2 separate regions of the Homo sapiens genome follow, and region 2 is linked to region 1. Evidence: fine-mapped expression QTL. A gene starts in region 1. The other region holds a variant in brackets. All regions are shown on one strand. Distances are between the middles of the regions.

Region 1 (12,102 bases):
GAGAAATTTAAACTCATCTTCTTGTTATTTTTACGCATTAAACAAGTCAACACATTTAATCTTTACCAACATTCCAAATAAGGAAAAATCAAATCATTGTCCAAGGTCATACACTAGTTAAAATCATAAAATAAAACTTAACCTAACCATGGATGAGTTCTTTTTGGAATTCAGAATGCTGTCTAGAATACATTTATTCCCCTGGCAAAGTTCTCCCTTATAAAATTGCCTTTTAACTCTTTTTCATATCTCATTTCATAGCCTTCTTAATATAAGTAGTTTGCAGTTAATAGCAACCTTTGTTTAAGAAAACCAATACCCCTATACTATAATGCATTCAATGCATTCATACATACATTCACTCATCCATTCAAAACATTTCATGAGCAGTTACTTAGTGCTCATGAGTTTTTTTGTCTTGTTTTGTTTTGTTTTTGAGATGGAGTCTTGCTCTATCTCCCAGGCTGGAGTGCAGTGGTGGCACAATCTCGGCTCACTACAACCTCCGCCTCCTAGATTCAAGTGATTCTCCTGCCTCAGCCCCCGAGTAGCTGGGATTACAGGCGTGCACCACCACACCTGGCTAATCTTTGTATTTTTAGTAGAGACGGGGTTTTATCATGTTGGCCAGGCTGGTCTCGAACTCCTGACCTCAGATGATCTGCCTGCCTCAGCCTCCCAAAGTGCTGGGATTACAGGTGTGAGCCACCCTGCCCGGCCTGGTGCTCATGAAATGTTTTGAATGGATGAGTTAATGTATTAATATGTGCACTGTGCTAGGTGTTGGGGATTCAGCAATAAACAAGAGATGCAGGATGCTTGTCCTTTTATATGCATGCTTAGTATTTTTATTGCTGCTGCTTCTCTCTTTCTCTTTTATTTTTTTTTTTTTGAGACAGGGTCTCACTCTATCTCCCATGCTTGAATGCAGTGGCGTGAACTCAGCTCACTGTAGCCTTGACCTCCTGGGTTCAAATGATCCTCCTACCTCAGCCTCCCAAGTAGCTAGCTGGGACTTCAGGTGTGTGCCACTACACCCCCCTCATTTTTGTATTTTTTTGTAGGGATGGGGTTTTGCCATGTTGCCCAGGATGGTCTCGAATTGCTGGGCTCAAGTGATCCACCTGCCTCGGCCTCCTAAAGTGCTGGGATTACAGATGTGAGCCACCGTGCCCAGCCTTTACTGCTTCTTTTACTAATAGTGTTGAGAATCTCAATCACACCTAAAAATTCTGCATGAAAGATTCCTATGAGATATTCTAATTATTTACCCAAGATCTACATTCCAGTGTCCTACTAGGAAAGTTGATTTACATTTTACTGGATAAATACAAATGTTTTGCATAAAAATAATGGAAAGACATCTAAAACTGAAAATCTCCTGAGGAGTCTCTGCTTTTAATTTCTTGGTGAGCACATGGATCTCAATAAGGGGATAGTTAGCACTGTTAGCTCAGGATGAGTTTCTGAAAGATACCTGGACCTGTTGCTATGTCTGAATGTGTCCCTCTCAAATGGATATGTTGAAATCTTCACCTCTAAGGTGATGGCATTAGGGGTAGGGCCTTTGGGAGATGATTAGGTCATGGGAACTCCACTTCATGATTAAGATTAGTGCCTGCTATGGTTTGAACATGCCCTCCAAAGTCCATGTGTTAGAAACTTAATCCTCAATGCAACAGTGTTGAGAGGTGGGCCTTTAAGAGGTGAGTAGGTCATGAACGGGAGTGAGTTAGTTATCTCGGGAGTCAGTTCCTGATAAAAAGGATGAATTTGGTCACCTTTCTCTTGGTCTCAAGTGCTTGGTTTCCCTTCTACCTTCTGCCTTCCTCCGCAGGATGATATAGCATGAAGGCCCTCACCAGACGCTGGTGCCATGCTCTTGGACTTCCCAGTCTCCAGAACTGTGAGCCAAATAAACTTCTGTTCTTTATAAATTACCCAGTGTGTGGTATTTTTATTGCAACAGAAAAGGGACTAAGAGTGCCTTTAAAAAAGAGACCCCAGAGAGCTAGCTAGTCTCTTCTGCCATGTGAGGTTACAGTAAAGATGGCTGTCTATGAGGAAGCAAGCCCTCACCTGACCCCAAATCTGTGGAACCTTGTTCTTGCACTTTCCAGGCTTCAGACTGTGATAAACACATTTCTGTTGTTTATAAGCTACTCACTTCATGCAATTTTGTTATGGCAGCCTGAACACACTGAGAGACCTATTTTCTCCAGAGACACTACAACCACTTTAAACCTAAAGAGCAAGAATGGGGAGCCACTAGAATAAAGCTACATTCCAGTATCACTGCTGGGATGTAGAGATGATGGTGGAAAAAGACTTGACAGAGCCCACTGAGGAAGGCAGCCCCACCTCTAATCTCACCCTGGGACTTTAAGACATGAATGAGTTGAGGGCAGATAGGTGACTTGAATTAAATTCCAGGTGACGGTTTTACAGTTGTTGGCACCAGCAGATGGGGATCAGAGGGCCCACGTGTGGAGAGAAGGGTAGAGGGTGGGGGTCTAGGCTAGTTGTATGTTGATAGGGGCCATCGATGGTAGACTCTGGATGAGGCAGAATAGGCGGGAAGAAGGGGGAATGGCACCAGGAAGCATCAGGTTGGCCCCCAAGAGTTGGACCTGCCGTCTCTGAGAGACTGGCTGGCAATAGGTCCTGCTGCAGTGGAGCAGTGGGTCCAGAGGAGGTTATTTTTGCTTTTAATATGAAGGTGGGTCCTTAATCATCAGAACAGGAACTGAGAATGATGGTTAGTGTTTCTGAAAGAAAAAAGAGCCATGGGGGAATGGAATCAACCCTTTTTCACAATTTGTTAGGCAGTTTCACAAATTAACTTATTTGAAACTAGCCTCCACTCTAGATAAGGAAGCCAAGGATCAGAGAAATCACATAATTTGTCCAAGTCACATCCCTGGTATGCAGGCAGAGTAGGGATTTGAACTCAACTGTCTCTGTCTTCAGAGAGTGTGCTTTTTCCAGATCTTGCCTGGAAGACATGATGTTCCTCCTTTCCCTTTGTATCTAGCCCCTACTTTACTCCTCAGCCACTCTCTCGTTTCTTCTGCTTCATGCAATTCATTCTCCTGCCATCTTTTCTTCTTCTTTAACTTGCCATAATTTGCAATAGATATATTTATTAAACAAAATCAATTTTTAAAGTAGACTGGTTGAAAATGTTATAATTTTCTAAAAAACAAGATTCCAATTCCTCTAAAACTAAAGAAGAGTTGTTTTGTACTTATTTATAAAAAGCCTGTAACTCATTTTCTTTTCTTTATGTGTCATTATAATCAAGGGAAACAGTAGGGCCATGAATATATGATCAAAATATTAGAGTTGAGAGATGTAGAAACTGAAACACAAAGAAGCTCAGCGACTTATTTAGAATAAATTGGCTAGTTCCTGAATGATCCAAATAATTGAGAGAAATAGGGAAAATCCTGAGTTAACAAATAAATACAGTTTCAAAAGTGTGTTTGTAAATTAGTTCTCTGGCATTTGGTATATTTCTCTAATAAAAAGAAAATTGATGTGACCTGAGTGTCTCATAGAAAACAGCTGAAACTCATTATTTATATCTAAGAATAGTATAAAAAACTCCCCACAATTATTATGTAGTACTTATAATGAACACAACACAAAGACAATACACTGAGAAAGAAGGACTTTAATTTTTAAATGTGTAAGAAGAGAAAATTTAATTAGAAAGATGAAAGACTTAACTGGCGAATCCGGCAGAGATTCTAAAGATGACATTTGGACACTGATAAAGGCCATTGGGGGATGAATGACAGACACTTGTTTTTAAGAGTGTGAAAGCTGTCCTTATCAAAATGGAGTCAATTGTGTTAAAAAACGAGACAAATCCCTGACAAATGGCTGGGGAAGGCCATGAAGGGAGGGTTCTAATACATAAATGCCTGATAACAAGAACTATTGAAAAATACTGCAAAAACCACAACTTTGGACAAAGGCCATTGCAACCACACACACACACACACACACACACACACACACACACAGAGAGAGAGAGAGAGAGAGAGAGAGAGAGAGAGAAAATGAGAACTTCTGCGGAGACATCTGCCCAGCAACTGCCTGTACAACATTAGACTGGTGCCACTCTAGTTATTGATTACTGTAGCCAAGGATAATTATCTCAAAAACAATGATGTAATCTTCCTTCTTCCTTGAAAAACCTTTGCCTTCCTTTACCTCCCTGAATACGCAAAATAGTTTAATATGGCACACATATTCCCATTGCAATGCCCATTCCCAAATAAACATCATTTTCTTTTAGAAAGTCTCCCTCTCTGTTTGTTATTAGGCTGACAAGAGGTAGTGAAAGAGATTTCCTGAGTGCCTATCATTTATATCACTCAGTAGTTAAGAACATCAGTTGTTCAAAATCCATCAATTAAATACACAATTCAAAGCAGAATCTTTATGTGGCAATCTCTCTTTATTCTAAATAAGTCGCTGAGCTTCTTTGTGTTTTAGTTTCTACATCTCTCAACTCTAATATTGTACCTTCCACTCCAGCCATTTTAGACAGTTCAAATCACACAGACACAAAGAGATACTTTCCTTCTCTTGGTTTTGCAGTTCACTTAACCAGACCACCCTTTCTCCCCTTCATAGTTTGATAAAATATCCTCTCTCAAAAGCCTAATCCAAATGCTATGTCAACCATCTGACAAAATATTAGCTCCTTCCTCTGAAACTAATTGCATTTTGATTGCATTCTAGGCATTTCTTTCCTGATTTATAGTCTCTCATTGTAGTGTTCATATACATGCTTTATCTATAATATTAAGGTGCAAACTCTTAGGTATGGCCTTTCCACAGGTGCTCAGTGTATAGTTGTCAAATACAATTAAATTGTATCAATTTAGGTTTCTGTTCAAGGCTTCTCAGAAATGGCTTCATATCACCTTTGCAAAATAAGTGTTCCCTTCATTTCCATTCCCTAGCCTTTATTTTCTTTATACCACGCATCACACAGGACATATTAGATACTTGTTTATTGTTTGTTTCCTCCACCAGAATGTATGACCTATGAGGGCAAGGCCTTTGTTTCACTTGCCGTGTTTACCCCAGCACCTAGATCTGTGCCTGGTCCAGAGTAGGAGTTGAATAAACTGATATTACTGGAAGTGAAAGAAATGCTACCTGGAGTATTTCAAGACTCTGAGTCCAATAACTCATCGATTTTGTCAGTATTTAGCTGCAGGACATAGAGCAAGTCACTAACCCATGATGAGTCTCATGTCCCTGTAAAATCAATGATTGTTAAATACAGGATCTCTGAGGTCCTGTTTAACTCCATTAATGTGAGAGTAGAAAGTGAGAGAAGCAAACTGAGTTCAAGTGGATATGGGTGAGAAAAAAGAATGCTCTAGGCAAGACTACAGGTCCTGCTTTTGGTGCAGGGCAGAGAGAAAGTAGAAAAGCTGGAGCAACGGAGACAGATGCTCAGAAAAGGGCTGCCTTCAGATATATTAATACCTGTAAAGAAAACCCGGGGGAGGTGCTGACTTGGGGAGAGCCTGAGGCTGAGTAGACAGCTGGGCTGGTGGAGAGGAGGCTCCCAGAGGAAAGGCAACCCGCCAGTGGGGTGGGGGTGATGGGGTTGGCAAGCTCCACAAATTTTGCAATTTTGCCTCCTTTCCCAGAGAACAACCACTCTGTTGTGACTTTGTCAGGGCTGGAATAGGCATGTGGTTCACACGTGAAAGCGAATGAGAAGTTCTATACAAAGAACCACATTTGCTGTCCATTTAATTTATTCTTCCTCATTCTCAAAGAAGACTAGATCCTCATCTCTTACCCTTAACCTCCACGTTGAGAAGCACTTTGCCCTTCCCATTCTAGCATATGTCTAGAACACTGCATCTAGTGTCGCAAACTTGTCCTCTTGCCCCCTCTGCCCTGGCACCTTCCCTCCCCACACCAGTAAGTCTGAGAAGGTCCCTGTGTCTTCTACTTTTCCTTTTCCAGCATATGGAGACAAAAGTGATTATATCCCGGATGCTAATCCGCCATGTTGACCTTTAATAACCCCAGTCCCATGAATACCTCCTGATTCCTAGGATTTTTTTTTTAAACTGTCCTTAGCATAAGAACATGTCAACCTTGATGCTATTGCCCACATTGTAGGCTATGAAGCATACGGCATTCTCACCTGTTCCGGAGGGCTGCCTTTAATTGTCTTGCACAGAGCAGTATACTCTTTCCTTACGGTATATAAGGCCAGGGTCTGGGGAGTAACAGTGCAGAAATTTATCTGCTTGCCGCCGCCCAAGGCCACGCTTCTGTCTACCACATCCTCCAATAGCACCCCTATTACCTACAGACTGGATTTGTCTGTCTCGTTCTTTGGTTTCTTGACTCCTTCGCGTTTGGGGGCTGCTTTGCATATAAAGCCCTTTCACAGAACACAGCACCATGCTAGTACAATACGCTGTAGATTCTCCCTCCCTCCCCCTCTCTCTCATATACTCATATATTTTATGTTGAACCAATATGAGGCATTGCTCAAATTTAAGTCATATTAAAGTTCTAGGCTAGTTTTGAAAACAGAAACTGATTGGAAGCAGAGGTTTTCAAATAGCCCACATACGCTACTAGAAGGCTGTACATTTAAGAGAGGGCCATCTAGGAAGCAATAATAGGCATTAAAACAACAACAAAACAACAAAACAAAACAGAAACAAAAACAACTTGGGAAACGGCCCTCCTTTCACGTTTTTTCTATCCCATCGACAAAGGCGCGCTGTCCTTAGCTGCGATGATTTTGTCTCGCCTCCAAAAAGACGCCCACGCACTATGTTGAGCACCCAAGTGAGGCTACGGTTCCTGCGGTCACAGAGGGCAGGGAGGCTCAAGCACCTCCAAAACCCCGAGCCCTGGACAGCTCCCCAGGCCCTTCCCGCGGCGCGAGGACAAGAGGTCTCCGGGGCCCTCGGGGGAGCGGCGCCTCCTCCTGGTTCCAGCAGCTCTGCGGCCGCTCCCCACCCAGGCCCGCGAGACCAGCGGGACAGTCCGCGCCGCGGGAGACCAACTGGGACGAGCCGCGACCCACGCAGGCGCGCTGAGGCCGGGGCAGGGGCGGGCCCGGCTGGCGCGGCCGGCCTGCGGTTGGGGCCCTGGCGGGGGTGGGACGGGCCAAGCCGGGCAGGGCCGGGGTGGGGCCGCTGGCGTTTCCGTTGCTTGGATCAGTCTAGGTGCAGCTGCCGGATCCTTCAGCGTCTGCATCTCGGCGTCGCCCCGCGTACCGTCGCCCGGCTCTCCGCCGCTCTCCCGGGGTTTCGGGGCACTTGGGTCCCACAGTCTGGGTGAGTGGTCGCAGCCCGGGGAGGGGGCTCCTTCTGGAGAGGAGAGCGTGGTCGCGGGGCACTGGATTCGCGCGGACGCTCGGCCGAGAGCTGTCCCGGTAGCTGCGAGAGGGCGGGTCGGCCCCGTGGCGGGGCCCTCCGGGCTGTCTGAGCGCCGCCGGGTCCCCGCGGACCTGCGCTTGGGGAGGGCACGAGTTGCAAATGGCGCGCTAAGCCCGAGGTTTCTTCTCTTTTGCAGTCCTGCTTCACCTTCCCCTGACCTGAGTAGTCGCCATGGCACAGGTAAGGCCGTGCGCCCCCCACTGCGCTGGATTTACCCACAACTTTGTATGCTGCGACGAGGGACTTTTAGGATTTGTCTGAGAGCCAAAAAGTTTAGGAGGAAAGGGAACCTGCTTTGGGGACATCGCTTCCACTTTTCTTGTTCCCCCTTTGCTTCCCTGCCCCCGTTTCTGTGTCCCGGTTCTTCCCGCTGAGCGCCCTCCGGAACCAGCACCGACGCCGCCAAGCTGCCTTCGCGCGCAACAGCTGGTGACGTGGCCGGATTTGTGTGCGCTCCCTTTTCATGAGTGAATGTGTAAAAGTGGGCCTTCCCCAAAATCCAGAGAGTAGCTCAAATTAGAACCGGAGCAAGAACAGCTCATCGTGGTCATGTGAGGCGAACGCATTCCCCCCCCACCCCGCCCCCCGACTTCCTTTATTTTTTTTCCGCAAAGTTTTCTGTATTTTAATACTGTGATTGAGCATTGGCTTTTTCCAGTTGCTCAGCCCAGTTTTACTAAAACTGTAGGACGTAGGCTCTGATTTTTTTTTTAATCCAAAAGATTAAACACAAGCGCTGTTTTTCTTAAGCAATGAACTCGTGGAACGAGTTCTCAATTGAATTTGCCTTGGGACTGTTTCAGAAATTGATAATCTACTACAGGCTTTCTTTACTGTTTTTTTTTTTTCCTTTTTTTTTGAGACGGAGTCTCACTCTGTCGCCCAGGCTGGAGTCCAGTGACGTAGTGATCTCGCTCACTACAACCTCTGCCTCCCGGGTTCAAGCAATTCTCGTGTCTCAGCTTTCCAAGTAGCTGGGATTACAGGCGCCCCACCATGCCCAGCTAATTTTGTATTTTTAGTAGAGGCGGGGTTTCACCATGTTGGCCAGGCTGGTCTCAAACTCCTTGCCTCAAGTGATCCTCCCGCCTCGGCCTCAGGACTGTAATCCCACTGCGCCTGGTTTCTTTACTGTTATTAATGTTTATCAAAAATGTAGGAAAGAGAAGATAGTTTAAGGTCTTTAAATATTGACCATGTTATACAGTCTTTTGTGAATAAGATACCAGGGCTTAAAAACTCTAAAACTGATTTCACAGATCTTGTCAATCTAACCGGCTTGTCAGAGTCCAGATAGTTTTTTTTAAACAAGTGTTTTAACTGCTAAAACAATGCTGTCTCTTATTTATAGTTCACTTTTTATCAGATTGACTTATCAAAATTGAAAAAGGTTTCTTGGTCCTTTCCAAGTGAAAATGGGAGGATTAAGATTAGTTGATTACTTTATGAAACTTACACAGTGATCCCATTCTTACCTCCTCTTTTGCACTTAAATGTTACAGTAAACCAATTCTCATATTACTTCAAGTGGAAAGTTTGGTTTAAGTTCTTCTCCATAGAAAGGATACTTTTATGTGGAATTAACTTTCCTGAGTAATATTTTTCCTATCTTGATATGCTGGTGTGGTGATGTACATGAAGATTTAACAAGCATCGAATAATAATTCCCTCTATCTTTGCTCATTTAGCAGTTTCTTGAATCTCTTGTAAGTTCCCCAGTGATGTCTGAGGGTCCATCAATTCCTTTTCATTATGTAGACTGTTTACCCAAATAGTATAAGCGAACATATTTTCCAGTTGTGGACATTAATTTTAATAATTTCAAAGAATGATTAGTATCATAAAGGCCATGTGTATAGAAAACCTAGGAGAATGGTGGTTTGCATATAAAATTATGTACCTGAGCCCTATGACAATATAACACCAAGACTGTTTTCTATCAAAACTACAGTTTTTACTAATCATAAAAGTTACAAGTAATGTTTTAAAAAAGATACAGAGTGTTAAATTTTGTTCTAGTTTTGTTACTATTTTTGGAAATCATGAAAGTAAAACATTTTGTTAAAATATTTAGTATTGGCCAGGCATGGTGGCTCATGCCTGTAATCCTAGCACTTTGGGAGGCTGAGGCACGTGGATCACGAGGTCAGGAGTTCGAGACCAGCCTAACCAACATGGTGAGACCTCGTCTCTTCTAAAAATACAAAAATTAGCTGGGCATGGTGGTGCACAACTGTAATCCCAGCTACTCGGGAGGCTGAGGCAGGAGAATCACTTGAACCCGGGAGGCGGAGGTTGCAGTGAGCTGAGATCGCGCTGCTGCACTCCAGCCTGGGCAACAGTGAGACTACGTCTCAAAAAAAAAGTTTAGTATTAAAGTTGGGTGCGGCGTCTGAGCAGTAAGAATGTCATGAAGGCAAAACTAGGCTACGTAATTGTTCATTAGAAGCTTCATGAACATCAGAATTTTTTTGTTTATTTTTTATTTATTTTTTATTATATATATATTTTTATTATACTTTAAGTTCTAGGGTATGTGTGCACAACATGCAGGTTTGTTACATATGTATACATGGTGCCATGTTGGTGTGCTGCACCCATTAACTCAATATTTACATTAGCTGTATCTCCTAATGCTATCCCTCCCCCCTCCCCCCCGCCCACAATAGGCCCCGGTGTGGGTGTGTGATGTTCCCCTTTCTGTGTCCAAGTGTTCTCATGAACATCAGAATTATCTCTATGGTATATGTTTAAGTTACAAGGTTTGATCAGAAATATTTTCGGTTGGTTTAAAATTATTATAATAATTTAAAAAAGCCCTGTGCCGAGCAAGCAGGATAAATGTAAATAAATAAATTTGAGATGAAACTCCTTCCAGAGGAGCTGACTGGATATTGATTGCATCTTTTCATGCCATTCATTTTTTAAAGTCAAGTCTCTCTGGAGCTAATGTTCACTTTTGGGATCTTAGATCAGGGTTACCTGTTTACCCGTGGCCTGTGCTGCTCCTGGTGATTTCTCTTGGTTCCTTATCTGTTTAACTCTTAAGTTCATTTTGGCTGCTGAGAAAGAACTAGATCAAAAACTACTTGGCTGCTTTGCAAGCCACTGAGCAATTCATTGGCATTCAGCAAACCCTGATTTCCTTATCTAATATCCAGTTCTCCTTGGAAGGCCTACATAGGTGATCAGGCTAGTTACAGGCAGGCAGTCCGGCTTTCTTCTTTTAATGACTTAGAAGTTCAAAATGGTAAAAATATAACAGTGCTTTTACAGCATAGATTCATTCCTGAAATACATTTTATTCATATAACCTTCATACTATTCTAAAATTTCACAAATGCATCTGTTTTTTAAAAATTAGGGCTCCTAAGACCTTTGCTTTAAGTGCTTCTTAGACGCAGTCTTTCAGTTTAGTTAGTTTACATAATATGTAAACATATCATCAATTGATTAATTGCAAGGAATTATACTCCTGGCTTCATTTCTTTGGACACTAGTTTTTTGGGTTTTTTTTTTTCTCCCCCGAGATGGAGTCTCGCTTTGTTGTCCAGGCTGGAGTGCCGTGGCGTGATCTCAGCTCACTGCAACCTCTGCTTCCTGGGTTCAACTGATTCTCTTCCCTCAGCCTCCGGAGTAGCTGGGATTAGAGGCATGTGCCACCACGCCTGGCTAATTTTTGTATTTTTAGTAGAGACGGAGTTTCGCCATGTTGGCCAGGCTAGTCTCGAACTCCTAACCTCAAGTGATCCGTGTGCCTCGGCCTCCCAAAGTGCTGGGATTACAGGCATGAGCCACTGCGCCTGGTGGGACACTAGTTCTTAACTGTTCTCTTTTTCATCCATGCATGCATTCATGAATGCATGAGGCTTTTGCATTTTCACTATGTGCCAAGTATTGTTAAACATGAGCGCAATGGGAAATGGATCTAAGATTTATTGATATAATAGATGCATTGCCAAGTCTTTTGTGTGCATTATTTAGTCCTCATAACACAGTTTTGGAAATAGGTATTACTATTTTTGTTTCACAGAAGGGGAAATTGAGGTTACTTAGCTGGCATTCTTTGTATGGGACAAAGGAGGGAAGCCATCATACAGAGAGGTAACAACAGCAAATAAATACTTAGGGGTGTAAAAGAGTTTGGCATGATGGAGTGAAACTGCAGTGAGGTGGGGAAATCAAGCCTTGTCTTGGAAGGGATAGAACTTTTCAAGTGTTATTCATGGAATGCCCAATGGAACAATTTGGTAAAAGAGCATACTCTCCTCTGACCTTCAATGTGAACTCATGGGAGGCCAATGCCACCTGCTCACTTTAACTCACTCAAGACATCACTGGAGTTATTCTTGGGCAACTTGAGCACACAATTTAACTTTCCATTTTATTGGTGTTTGTCAAGGGAAGTCATTCTTACACTGGTAAAGAGACACAACATTAAACACAGAGCATTAAAGAAATACACAACAAAAATTTAAATCATTTTACAAATCTTCACTTTGTTATCAAAACCTTCTTTTCTACCACGATGCAAACAACTTAGTCTGTTCTCCAGTGATGTTTTTTTTCCCTTGCATTTGATTTTAAGAAACAGGTCAAAGGTGGTAGGATGGATAGACAAATGGAAAGAAGCAAAAACAAGTAAGATGGAGCATGA
Region 2 (12,102 bases), 33 kb after region 1:
TACAATGTATTGATATTTTTGGTGGTAAGAGCTAAAGCATTTTATTCAATTGAGGCTGCATCTGAAAATAACCACCTAGGTGTGAAGGAAGAGCTTGATATGATATTTAGGGGAAGCAAACTCCCAAATTTCCAATTCAGAAATTTATTTTGATGTTGGAAATACAGGATTGTCTGGTTAGTTCATCTAAATCCTATGGAAATACTAAGATAATTGTTTAAAAATCATTTTGAAGCTGCATTAAAAATATTATTTATTGATAAACCTGAAATGTCGTGGACATTATCTCAGAGGCTTGTAAACATTATTTCTGATACCTGTGGAATTTTAGAATTTTTTTGAATACTGTTCTCTCAGCTTTGAGGCAGACTAAGAAATTGTCATCTGGTTTAGAAAAGAAGAATATCTTTGATGTAATAGAAGATGTGATGATGGTTGTTTTCAAATTAAATAATTTAGTTTTATTTTAATTAAATATTCAGAATAATCTGGAAAAATTGGAGAACTGAATCTGTGCAGTTGATTGCAGTATTATGTACTCCAAAGCTAGGGAGAATCTAGTTTGTGAGTCTCCTGTGGTCCTTTTGTTCATATGGGTCTGCAGTGAGCCTCTGTCTGCTGTTTGTTCCAAGTATTTGGCCTTGAGCTCACACTTTTGTGCTCTCTGTCTTCAGGAGACTAAGCTAAAGATCTGCATGAACCAACTCTAAAAGTAGCCTTTCACTTGAGTACACAGTTAATGTACTTTTACCAGAAAACTTTTAGACAGGTCCTTCATAATTAGAATACGCATACAAATTAAGACATTTTCAGTTACTGGTGGCTGTTTTTCTTAAGACTTAGAAAAGGGAGAATTAAGAAATCTCCACATGCAAGGATTATTTTTGTATATTAAGGAATTTTCATGATAGATTTTCTGAAGCTAAGCAGACTGAGGTCTGAGCAGCCCCAACCTACATTCAACATGTACATGTTCAGAGAAGAGATCCTTTCTGATATTGATTTATCTGTTTTTGTACTGAAATGGATAAATCTCATGCTGCTCTGTGTGAATCATTGATATTAAAGAATATGTAGAGAGTATAGGAAGATCACCCAAGAGTTTAAAAAAATTAGGTAGTAATCTTGTATTATTTGCTTTAATGTCTTGGAATGAAAACTTCCAAGGGATTTGTGTAATTTATTGGTGATGAAGAATGTTGTGGTATTATGATAACAATCCAGGCTGCCCAAACTGCAGTATCCAAAAAGTCTTCACAGAACCAAGGCGCATAGAAAAACCTGTGCCCTTATTCTCCATGCCTTTCTATGCAGACCTCAGAACTCCAAGGAAAACCTAAGCCAGTGTCTAAGAAAATACTTGGTGAGTGAGGAAATCAGATTAGCTTACAGCTCTTTAGCCTCTGGTACTTTTGTGTTTTTATAGAAGTAGAGCTATAAGCAGGAAGCAGCACTTGATTTTTAATTACTTAATCCTTTACATATCAAAATAGCATTTGACCATTGTATTGTTTATTTTCTTAGTGAAATCTATTCGAAGTATACCTGCCTACCTTGCAGAGACCCTCTATTATGCTATGAAGGTAAGTGGAGACCATGAACCTTCTATCTAATACATTTCTCTTTCTAATTATTATTCTTCACTTTTGTTTATGTTTTAGATGATAGACCTTGGGAATTTTTCCCTTATAACATTCAACCCAGTTCTACTAAATTGTTATACCTTATTGATTCACCCGCACCCGGGAGCATTTGATCCTATGTTTGAAGTTTTTAAGCATTTTGCTTCTCTCTTTTTTTTTTTTTTTAAAGGGAGCTGGGACAGATGATCATACCCTCATCAGAGTCATGGTTTCCAGGAGTGAGATTGATCTGTTTAACATCAGGAAGGAGTTTAGGAAGAATTTTGCCACCTCTCTTTATTCCATGATTAAGGTAGTAGAACCTTTCTTTAAATTACGTTTGGGAATCCAAAGCAGACTGGTATGTTGCATGAAAGACAAGGATAAGAGAACCTGATTCTTGTGTTAAGTTTAAAATTTTAGTGACACGATTAGAGCAATGAGTTAAAAAGCTTAGCATAATGTTTCCTGAAGTAGAGATGATGGCTCCCAAGTGAAAGCATGGGTATTGATGTGGCTGAGGCTCTTGGTGAACTCAGAAGCATTATTTAGTAGTGGTAACAGATGACTCAACAAACCAAACCCCTTGCCTATGATAATAATGTGTTCTTTCTGTCTTTTATCAATTCCAGCTGTCTTTATTAGTCCTTCTTTTATTTCATATCAGCTTTTCCTTTCTTTATCGTCTGTTATCACCTTATCTCTGATGCTGGTTTCTAATTCAGGAAAGAGCCAACCAGGTCATATTGGGAGTAAAGAGCCCCTAGGTATTAGTATCATTTTTGTTCTTTTTAAAACAAGGTGCTCTGTGGCCTATAATTACATTTAGCTTAAAGTCTTTTGACTTTTTTTTTTTTTTTCCAGTAAAGGTTAATGTGGACCATGTGCAAAGCAAGATTTCAATTGAGCAGAAGCTTTTAGTTTAGCATGTTTGTGGTTTGGCTGGCCCAAAGGACACTAGAGAGTTTACCCATGCACTTTTAGCTTGAAACATTAATTTATCATGCATGTCTGCATGTGAGACAAGCAGATGCAAAGCATGTTCTGCCCTTCTGTCTCGGAGGGAGAGCCATGACAGCCCTGCAGCCCCAGCACTGCCCGTGTTAGCTGATATATACCAAGTGATAGAAACTATTCTGTCTAGAAGGCTTGATTTGACTATAGTTGTTAAAGTTGCCTGATTCTTTGTGTTACCAGAGGGAATACTGAGTGTCTGAGGTTACATTGGTAGGAAACTCCCTGCATAACATTCCTGATGTGAAAGTCACAGAGATTACCCACTTGGGAGAAGAGTCTTATGAATAAAATTTGTTGCCAGTTATTTAGTTTTAAAATTTTCTATGGCTTCTGTGAGTCATGGAGGTTAATGGAATACATTTGGTTTCAGGGAGATACATCTGGGGACTATAAGAAAGCTCTTCTGCTGCTCTGTGGAGAAGATGACTAACGTGTCACGGGGAAGAGCTCCCTGCTGTGTGCCTGCACCACCCCACTGCCTTCCTTCAGCACCTTTAGCTGCATTTGTATGCCAGTGCTTAACACATTGCCTTATTCATACTAGCATGCTCATGACCAACACATACACGTCATAGAAGAAAATAGTGGTGCTTCTTTCTGATCTCTAGTGGAGATCTCTTTGACTGCTGTAGTACTAAAGTGTACTTAATGTTACTAAGTTTAATGCCTGGCCATTTTCCATTTATATATATTTTTTAAGAGGCTAGAGTGCTTTTAGCCTTTTTTAAAAACTCCATTTATATTACATTTGTAACCATGATACTTTAATCAGAAGCTTAGCCTTGAAATTGTGAACTCTTGGAAATGTTATTAGTGAAGTTCGCAACTAAACTAAACCTGTAAAATTATGATGATTGTATTCAAAAGATTAATGAAAAATAAACATTTCTGTCCCCCTGAATTATGTGTACATGTGTGTTTAGATTTATTATTAAATTTATTTAACAATGTTCTCTCTTTTTAAGCTAATAATTGACAGTGGTGTTAGTTGAGAACTGAATTTACAGTTGGTCTTTTGGGCAGTAAGAAATGCAAACCATAGACTGAATTTCCTTCATAGTACATGATTTTTCCTAAATATAGGAAAGATCGAAGGGGTCTCTGGTTTATTTGCACCATGTTTATTTAGGCATCTATTAAAGCAATGCTTGTGGTGCTACTTGCTTAGTAGAAAAGCTAATTATAAAACTTAATGCAAAAATTCAGAGTACTACCTTTCTCTTTCCTCTTTCCTATTGTGAACTTGCCTCCCATTTACTGTCTGTCACTTTCTTTGAGATAAATAAAAAAGACAATAATTTTTTCTAGAAAGAAGCAGTTTATCGATCTCTTCTAATATTTGCCTTTCAGTTTTCTGTTTTCAAACTGCCATTTCAGTTGGTGTCATTTTTCTTTTTGTACTTATGCCCTTCTGGTTGCATTTTTTTTTTTAAAGCCAAGTAATTGCCATTAATAAGCTTTTTTAAATAAAATGAACTAATCTTCCTTTGAAAACTTTAAAATAGTGATAATATTCTTTTCACCACCGTTGATGCTCATCAGAATAACCAGGGGAATCTTAAAAACTGTATGTGTACACATGATATTGGATTTTTGTTTTTTTGAGAGGCCTCATAGGCAATTTTAATGCAGAGGCAAGTTGAGAATCAGTTGGTTATACTTTTCACATAGAAGATGATATGTTTCAAAGAGCTCTGTTCTGTTATTGAAAATAGGCCACTGGCTTTAAATATAAGCCCTGGATTATTTATTAGTAACACTTTAAGAGAAATCCACCTGTGAGCTTTAACATTTGCTATATTTTCTGTAGGTCTGGATCTGAAAATTTATTAATAAAAGAATTAAAAAAATAAAAATCCACAAAAAACATTTGCTATATTTATTTACTTAGTGACCTTCTTCCCAGCTCTCTGTGAGTTTATTGGGAGACAAATTTTTGTGGAACTAGATAAGCTGATTGTAAACATCATGCAAAAAAGGAAGGATTGTTAGTAAAACTTGAGAGTAGTGAGGGAGCACTATTCTTCTATTCTTTACACAGATTAGACTACATATCCTGAATAGCTGAAACAGTATAATACTGTGGCATGAATAGACAGACAAAACAGCAAGTTCAGATATGGAAACAAATCATTTGGAAATTTAGTATATGTTAAAGGTAGGTCTTAATTTGCTGGGTAAAGATAGCATTTTTTTCTAACAAATGGTGTGAAGACAGTTGGGGAGCCATCTAGGAAAATATAAGGCTTTTTCTATACCTCATGTATCAGGTAACTCTCAAAATGAAACATTTAAACTTAAAAATAAAATCATAAACATATGAGAAAGAAGCATGGAGGGATTTCATCATACCTGCACCTTCTAGATTCTCTGGGAAGCAGATGCTGAGATGGAGTTAGGGATGCAACAGGTTTATTGAATGGAACAGGTAGAAGGCAGGATTGGGCAAGGGGTGTCATCAGATTGCACTGCAGACCTGACCAAATCTTTGCCAGTATCATGTGGAACTCTGAGGCAAAGAGTTCCTGCAAAGAGCCCTTTGTGAGACAGAAGTGCCTGGGCCCTGTGCCACCACCTTCCTTACTCAATTATTGGCTAAGTGTCTTCTGGAGAAGAGCTTGGCTTGGCTGGAAAGCTGAGGCAAAACCTGAAGGAGATTAAGAGTTGGAAGGCTGTCAGCAACCCACATTTTCACAGCTTGGAACTGAGTATTTTCTTGAAAGGGGATCTAAGTGGTGCAGTTCCATGTCTGCCATAATGATCTTGAAGTGTGAGGCCTTTCTATCACCCAAAATCCAGAAGCCATAGGAGAAAAGATGATTATTTTTGATTTCCTAAAAATCAAAAACTACATGGAAGGCAGGCCAGGCACAGTGGCTCATGCCTGTAATTCCAGCACTTTGGGAGGCCAAGGTGGGTGGATTGCTTGAGCACAGGAGTTTGAGACCAGCATGGACAACATGGCAAAACCCCATTTTTATTTTTTAAAAAACCAAACAAAAAATTAGCTGGATGTGGTGGCACACGTCTCTGGTCTCAGCTATTTGGGAGACTGAGGTGAGAGAATTGTTTGAGCACAGGAGCACAAGGCTGCAGAGAGCCTGAAGGAGGGAAGGAGGAAAGGAAGGAAGGAAGGGAGGGAGGGAGGAAGGGAGGAAGGGAAGACGGGAGGGAGGGAGGAAAGGAAGGAAGGGAGGGAGGAAGGGAGGAAGGGAAGACGGGAGGGAGGGAGGGAGGGAGGGAAAATCACCACCAAGACAATTTAAATGACAAACGGGAAAACATTTACAGTTCATACAACAAAGATCTAATCTCCTTTGTACATGCTGACACACCTTGTTTTATTGTACTTTGCAAACAATTAAAAAAAA[A/T]TTTTTTTAAACAAATCATAAGTTTGTGGCAACCCTGCATTGAGTCAGTGTATCAGCACCATTTTTCCAATAGCATGTGCTCACTCTTTATCTGTTTGTCACATTTTGGTAATCCTTGCAATATTTTAAGTTTTCATTATTATGTATCTTATGGTGATCTGTGATCAGTGATCTTCAATGTTACTGTCATAATTAAGGTGCTATGAACCATGCCCATTTAAGACAGTGGGCTTAATTGATAAATATGTGAGTTCTGACTGCTCCACCGACTGGCTGTTCCCTCATCTCTCTCTCTCTTTCTCTCTCTCTCTCTGATCCTTTCTATTCCCTGAGACAAAACAATATTGAAATTAGGCCAATTAATAACCCTGCAATGGCCTCTGAGTGTTCAAATGAAAGGAAGAGACTCACACATCTCTTATTTTAAATGAAAAGTTCAAAGTGATTCAGCTTAGTGAGTAAGGCAGGTCAAAAGCCAAGGCAGGCTGAAAGCTAGGCTACTGGTGCCAAACAGCCAAATTGAGAATAAATGTAAATTTTAATTTTCTTTCTTGAAGAAAATTAAAAGTGCTACTCCATTGAACACATGAATGATTAAGACAGTGAAATAGCCGTATTGCTGATATAGAGAAAGTTTGAGTAGTCTGGTTAGAAGATCAAACCAGCCACAACATTCCCTTAAGTCAAAGCCCAATCCAGAGCAAGATCCTAATTTTCAATTCCATGAAGGCTGAGAGGTGAGGAAGCTGCAGAAGAAAAGTAAGTGAGCAGTTTTGGTTCATGCGGCTTAAGGAAAGAAGCCGTCTCTGTAATAGAAAAGTGCAAATTGAAACAGCAAGTGCTGATGCAGAAGTTGCAGCTAGTTCTCCAGATGACCTAGCTAAGATAATTGATAAAGGAGGCTACACTAAACCACAGATTTTTAGTGTAAACAAACAGCCTTCTATTAGAAGATGCAATTTATAGCTAGAGAGGATACATCAATGCCTGGCTAAAGCTTCAAAGAACAGGCTGACTCTTTAGGGGCCAATGCAGCTGGTGATGTTAAGCTGAAGCCAGTGCTCATTTACCATTCCCTGGATCCTAGGGCCCTTAAAAATCATGCTAAATCTACTCTGCCTGCATTCTATAAATGGTACAACAATGGATGATAGCACATCTGTTTATAGCATGGTTTGCTGTTATTTTAAGCCCACTTTTGAGACCTGCTCAGAAAAAAAATCCTTTTCAAAATATTACTGTACATTGACAATACACCTCATCACTTAAGAGCTCTGATGGAGATTTAGGAGGAGCTGAATGTTGTTTTCATGCCTGCTAACACAACATATATTCTGCACTCCATAGATCAAGGAGTAATTTCAACCTTTAAGTCTTATTAAAAAATGTACTTTATAAGGGCATAGCTGCCATAGATAGTGATTCTTTTGATGGATCTGGGCAAAGTAAATAGAAAACATTCTGGAAAAGATTCACCATTTTAGATGCCATTGATATGGTTTGGCTTTGTGTTCCCACCCAAATCTCATGTTGAATTATGATTCTGAGTGCTGAGTGGTGTGAAGTAACTGGATCACTGGGGTGGTTTCTAATGGTTTAGTATCATCCCCTAGTGTTGTCTCATAATAGAGTTCTCACAAGATCTGGTTGTTTGCAAGTGTGTAGCACCTCTCCCGTCACTCTCTCTTCCTCCTGCTCCACCATGGTAAGATGTACTTGCTTCTCCTTTGCCTTCTGCCATGATTGTAAGTTTCCTGAGGCCTCCCAGCCATGCTTCATGTACAGCCTGTAGAACTGTGGAATCAATTCAATTTCTTTTCATAAATTACCCAGTCTTAGGCATTTCTTTATAGCAGTGTGGGAACAGATTAATACAGCCATTAAGAATATTCATGATTCATGGGCAGAGGTAAAAATATCAGCATTACCAGGAGTTTGGAAGGAATTCATTCTAAACCTCATGGATGACTTTCAGGGGCCTAGGACTTCAGTGGACGAAGTAATTGCAGACATGGTGGAAATGGCAACAGAAGTAGAAGTAGAAGTGAAGCCTGAAGATGTGACTGAATTGCTGCAATGTCATGATAAAACTTGAATGGACAAAGAGTTGCTCTTATAGATGAGCAAAGAAATTAGTTTCTTAAGATGGAAACTATTCCTGGTGAAGATGCTGTGAACATTGTTGAAACAACAACAAAGGATTTAGAATGTTCCATAAACTTAGTTGATAAAGCAGCCATAGGGTTTGAGAAGATTGACTCCAATTTTGAAAGAAGCTCTACTACTAGACACTGTGGCTTATGCTTAGCTACTCAGGAGGCTGAGGCAGGAGGACTGCTTGAGGCCAGGAGTTCAAGACCAGCCCAGGCAACATAGGGAGATCCTGTCTCTCAAAAAAGAAATGAAAAAATAATGAGCTTGGTGTGGTGGTGCATGCCTGTAGTTCCAGCTGCATGGGAGGCTGAGGCCTAAGAGTTTGAGGCTGCAGTAAGCTATGATCATGCTGCTGCCCTCCAGCCTGGGTGACAGAGCGAGAGCTTGTCTCTTAGAAAAAAAAGTCTGTTTCAGAGAAATCATTTGTTAAAAAAAGAGTCAATCAATGCGGCAAACTTCATTATTGTCTTATTCTAAGAAATTGCTGCAGTATCCCAAGCAGCAGCCATTAACGTCGAGGCAAGATCCTCCACTAGCAAAAAGACTATGGCTCGCTGAAGGCTCAGATGTTTGTTAGCATTTTTTAGCAATAAAGTAGTTTTAAATTAAGGTATATACATTTTTTAAAGGGAAAAAAACCCCAAACCAGTACTATAGTAAGAAAAAAAAAGGGCAAAAGAGATGAATAGGCAGTTCATAGAATAAGAAATATGGCCCTTAAGCATGAAAAGATGCTTGATTTAACTCATAATAAGGGAAGCGCAAATTCAGATTACACTGAGATTCCTTTTTCCACCTATCAGATTGTCAAAAATCCAAAAGTTGGAGAACATCGTTGTTGTGACGGCAAGCTACAGTGAACTAGGAATTCTCACAGATGGTCAGTAGGAATAAAAAGTGGTATAACCCCTCTGGAGGGTAGTTTGGCAATATTTACCCAATCTATAAATGTATTTACCTTCTGACCCAGCAATAGCGCTCTGTGCATTTTTCTACCCATCACCTGCATTTATGAAATGCTGTGCGTGTAAGTTTATTATTGTGACATTGTCAATTCTCCTTAAATTCAACTATACATTTAATGTGATCTCATTAAAATACCCAGAGAAAATTTTTGGAAGTTTATGTGAAAAAACAGACAAGTAAGAGTGCCAGGAGAATTCTTTCTAAAGAATTGGACTGTGATCAGGTAGCCTGATGCCTCCAGCTTTGTTCTTTTTGCTTAGGATTGTCTTGGCTATGTGGGCTCTTTTTTGGTTCCACATGAACTTTAAAGTAGTTTTTTCCAATTTTGTGAAGAAAGTCAGTGGTAGCTTGATAGGGATAGCATTGAGTCCATAAATTACCTTGGACAGTATGGCCATTTTCACGATATTGATTCTTCCTATCCATGAGCATGGAATGTTATTCCATTTGTTTGTGATCTCTTTTATTTCCTTGAGCACTGGTTTGTAGTTCTCCTTGAAGAGGTCCTTCACATCCCTTGTTAGTTGGATCAGTTGGATTCCTAGGCATTTTATTCTCTTTGTAGCAATTGTGAATGGGAGTTCACTCATGATTTGGCTCTCTGTCTGTTATTGGTGTATAAGAATGCTTGTGATTTTTGCACCTTGATTTTTTATCCTGAGACTTTGCTTAAGTTGCTTATCAGCTTAAGGAGATTTGGGGCTGATACAATGGGGTTTTCTAAATATACAATCATGTCACCTGCAAACAGAGACAAGTTGACTTCCTCTTTTCCTAATTGAATACCCTTTATTTCTTTCTCTTGCCTGATTGCCCTGGCCAGAACTTCCAACACTATGTTGAACAGGAGTGGTGAGAGAGGGCATCCTGGTCTTGTGCCAGTTTTCAAAGGGAAGGCTTCCAGTTTTGCCCATTCAGTATGATATTGGCTATGGGTTTGTCATAAATAGCTCTTATTATTTTGAGATACGTTCCATCAATACTACAAGGCTACAGTAACCAAAACAGCATGGTATTGGTACCAAAACAGAGATATAGACCAATAGACCAATGGAACAGAACAGAGGCCTCAGAAATAACACCACACATCTACAATCATCTGATCTTTGACAAGCCTGACAAGAACAAGCAATGGGGAAGGATTCTTTATTTAATATTTAATAAATGGTGCTGGGAAAACTGGCTAGCCATATGTAGAAAGCTGAAACTGTATCCCTTCCTTACACCTTATGCAAAAATTAACTCAAGATGGATTAAAGACTTAAATGTAAGACCTAAAACCATAAAAACCCTAGAAGAAAACCTAGGCAATACCATTCAGGACATAGGCATGGGCAAAGACTTCATGACTAAAACAGCAAAAGCAATGGCAACAAAAGCCAAAATAGACAAATGGGATCTAATTAAACTAAAGAGCTTCTGCACAGCAAAAGAAACTATCATCAGAGTGAACAGGCAGCCTATGGAATGGGAGAAAATTTTTGCAATCTACCCATCTGACAAAGGGCTAATATCCAGAATCTAGAAAGAACTTAAACAAATATAGAAGAAAAAAACAACCCCATCAAAAAGCGAGCAAAGGATATGAACAAACACTTCTCAGAAGAAGACATTTATGCAGCCAACAGACCTATGAAAAAAAGCTCATCATCACTGGTCATCAGAGAAATGCAAATCAAAACCACAATGAGATACCATCTGACGCAGGAAACGACACATGCTGGAGAGGATGTGGAGAAATAGGAATGCTTTTACACTGTTGGTGGGAGTGTAAATTAGTTCAACCATTGTGGAAGACAGTGTGGCGTTTCCTCAAGGATCTAGAACTAGAAATACCATTTGACCCAGCCATCCCATTACTGGGTATATACCCAAAGTATTATAAATCATGCTACTATAAAGACACATGCACACGTATGTTTATTGTGGCACTATTCACAATAGCAAAGTCTTAGAACCAACCCAAATGTTCACCAATGATAGACTGGATTAAGAAAACGTGGCACACATACACCATGGAATACTATGCAGCCATAGAAAAGGACGAGTTCATGTCCTTTGCAGGGACATGGATGAAGCTGGAAACCATCATTCTCAGCAAACTATCACAAGGACAGAAAACCAAACACCACATGTTCTTACTCATAGGTGGGAGTTGAACGATGAGAACACATGGACACAGGGCAGAGAACATCACACACCAGGGCCTGTCGTGGGGTGGGGAAGCGGGGAGGGATAGCATTAGGAGAAATACCTAATGTAAATGACGAGTTGACGGATGCAGCAAACCAACATGGCACATGTATACCCATGTAACAAACCTGCACGTTGTGCACATGTACCCTAGAACTTAAAGTATAATTAAATAAAAAATTAAAAAAAAAGAATTGGACTGTGATAAGGGGCTAGAATGACCAGATACTAAAACAAAAATTACAACTGTTGTAACATTTTTTAGAGGCCCCCCAAATGTTTTAAAAACGTAAATCCATTATTGCTACCATTATCTTCTCATACGCAAATGATTCAAAGTACATTCATTATATTTCCCACAGACAAATATGTCTTCCTGATTTTTCTATTTTTGGTAGTGGCTCTAAAATGAAGTGTAGTACTCATACAGTAGGCAGACAGACCAATTAAATAGAATAAAAATGACAGAAATAGGCCTCAATACAGATAGAAACGTAGTATAAAGCATCATTTTAAGTCAAAAGAGAAAATATAACTATTAAATAAATAGTGCCAGGACCCACTCTTTTGGATAGACATCTCAAAAAACTAAAACTGGATCCATAACTCCCAGCTCAGGATGATCAATGATTTAAATATAAAAAGAAGAAATCATACAAATATTAAAATTAACTCTATTATCTGACTTTGGAACAAGTGTTAATATGTTATAAAATCTAGTAGCCATAAATGACAAAAAGACTGATTAAATTCAACTAATAAACCTTAAACTTTTAGAA

What was found. PIP is the estimated chance that this variant, and not a neighbour inherited with it, causes the effect.
Region 2: its variant is fine-mapped to the expression of ANXA5 in iPS cells (PhLiPS, PIP 0.95).

What each region holds. Positions count from the first base shown.
Region 1 is chr4:121,692,104-121,704,205 of GRCh38, reverse strand. ANXA5 (annexin A5) reads left to right here and starts at 7,226. Exons shown (of 13, transcript NM_001154.4): 1 at 7,226-7,343; 2 at 7,582-7,625. The coding sequence starts at 7,617. RefSeq lists a silencer at 6,858-7,277.
Region 2 is chr4:121,659,435-121,671,536 of GRCh38, reverse strand. ANXA5 (annexin A5) reads left to right here. Exons shown (of 13, transcript NM_001154.4): 11 at 1,525-1,583; 12 at 1,813-1,935; 13 at 3,010-3,591. The coding sequence ends at 3,069. Among named protein-coding and RNA genes, the nearest start is that of ANXA5, 31 kb to the left of the region's middle. The variant A/T (reference allele first, on the strand shown) is at 6,011.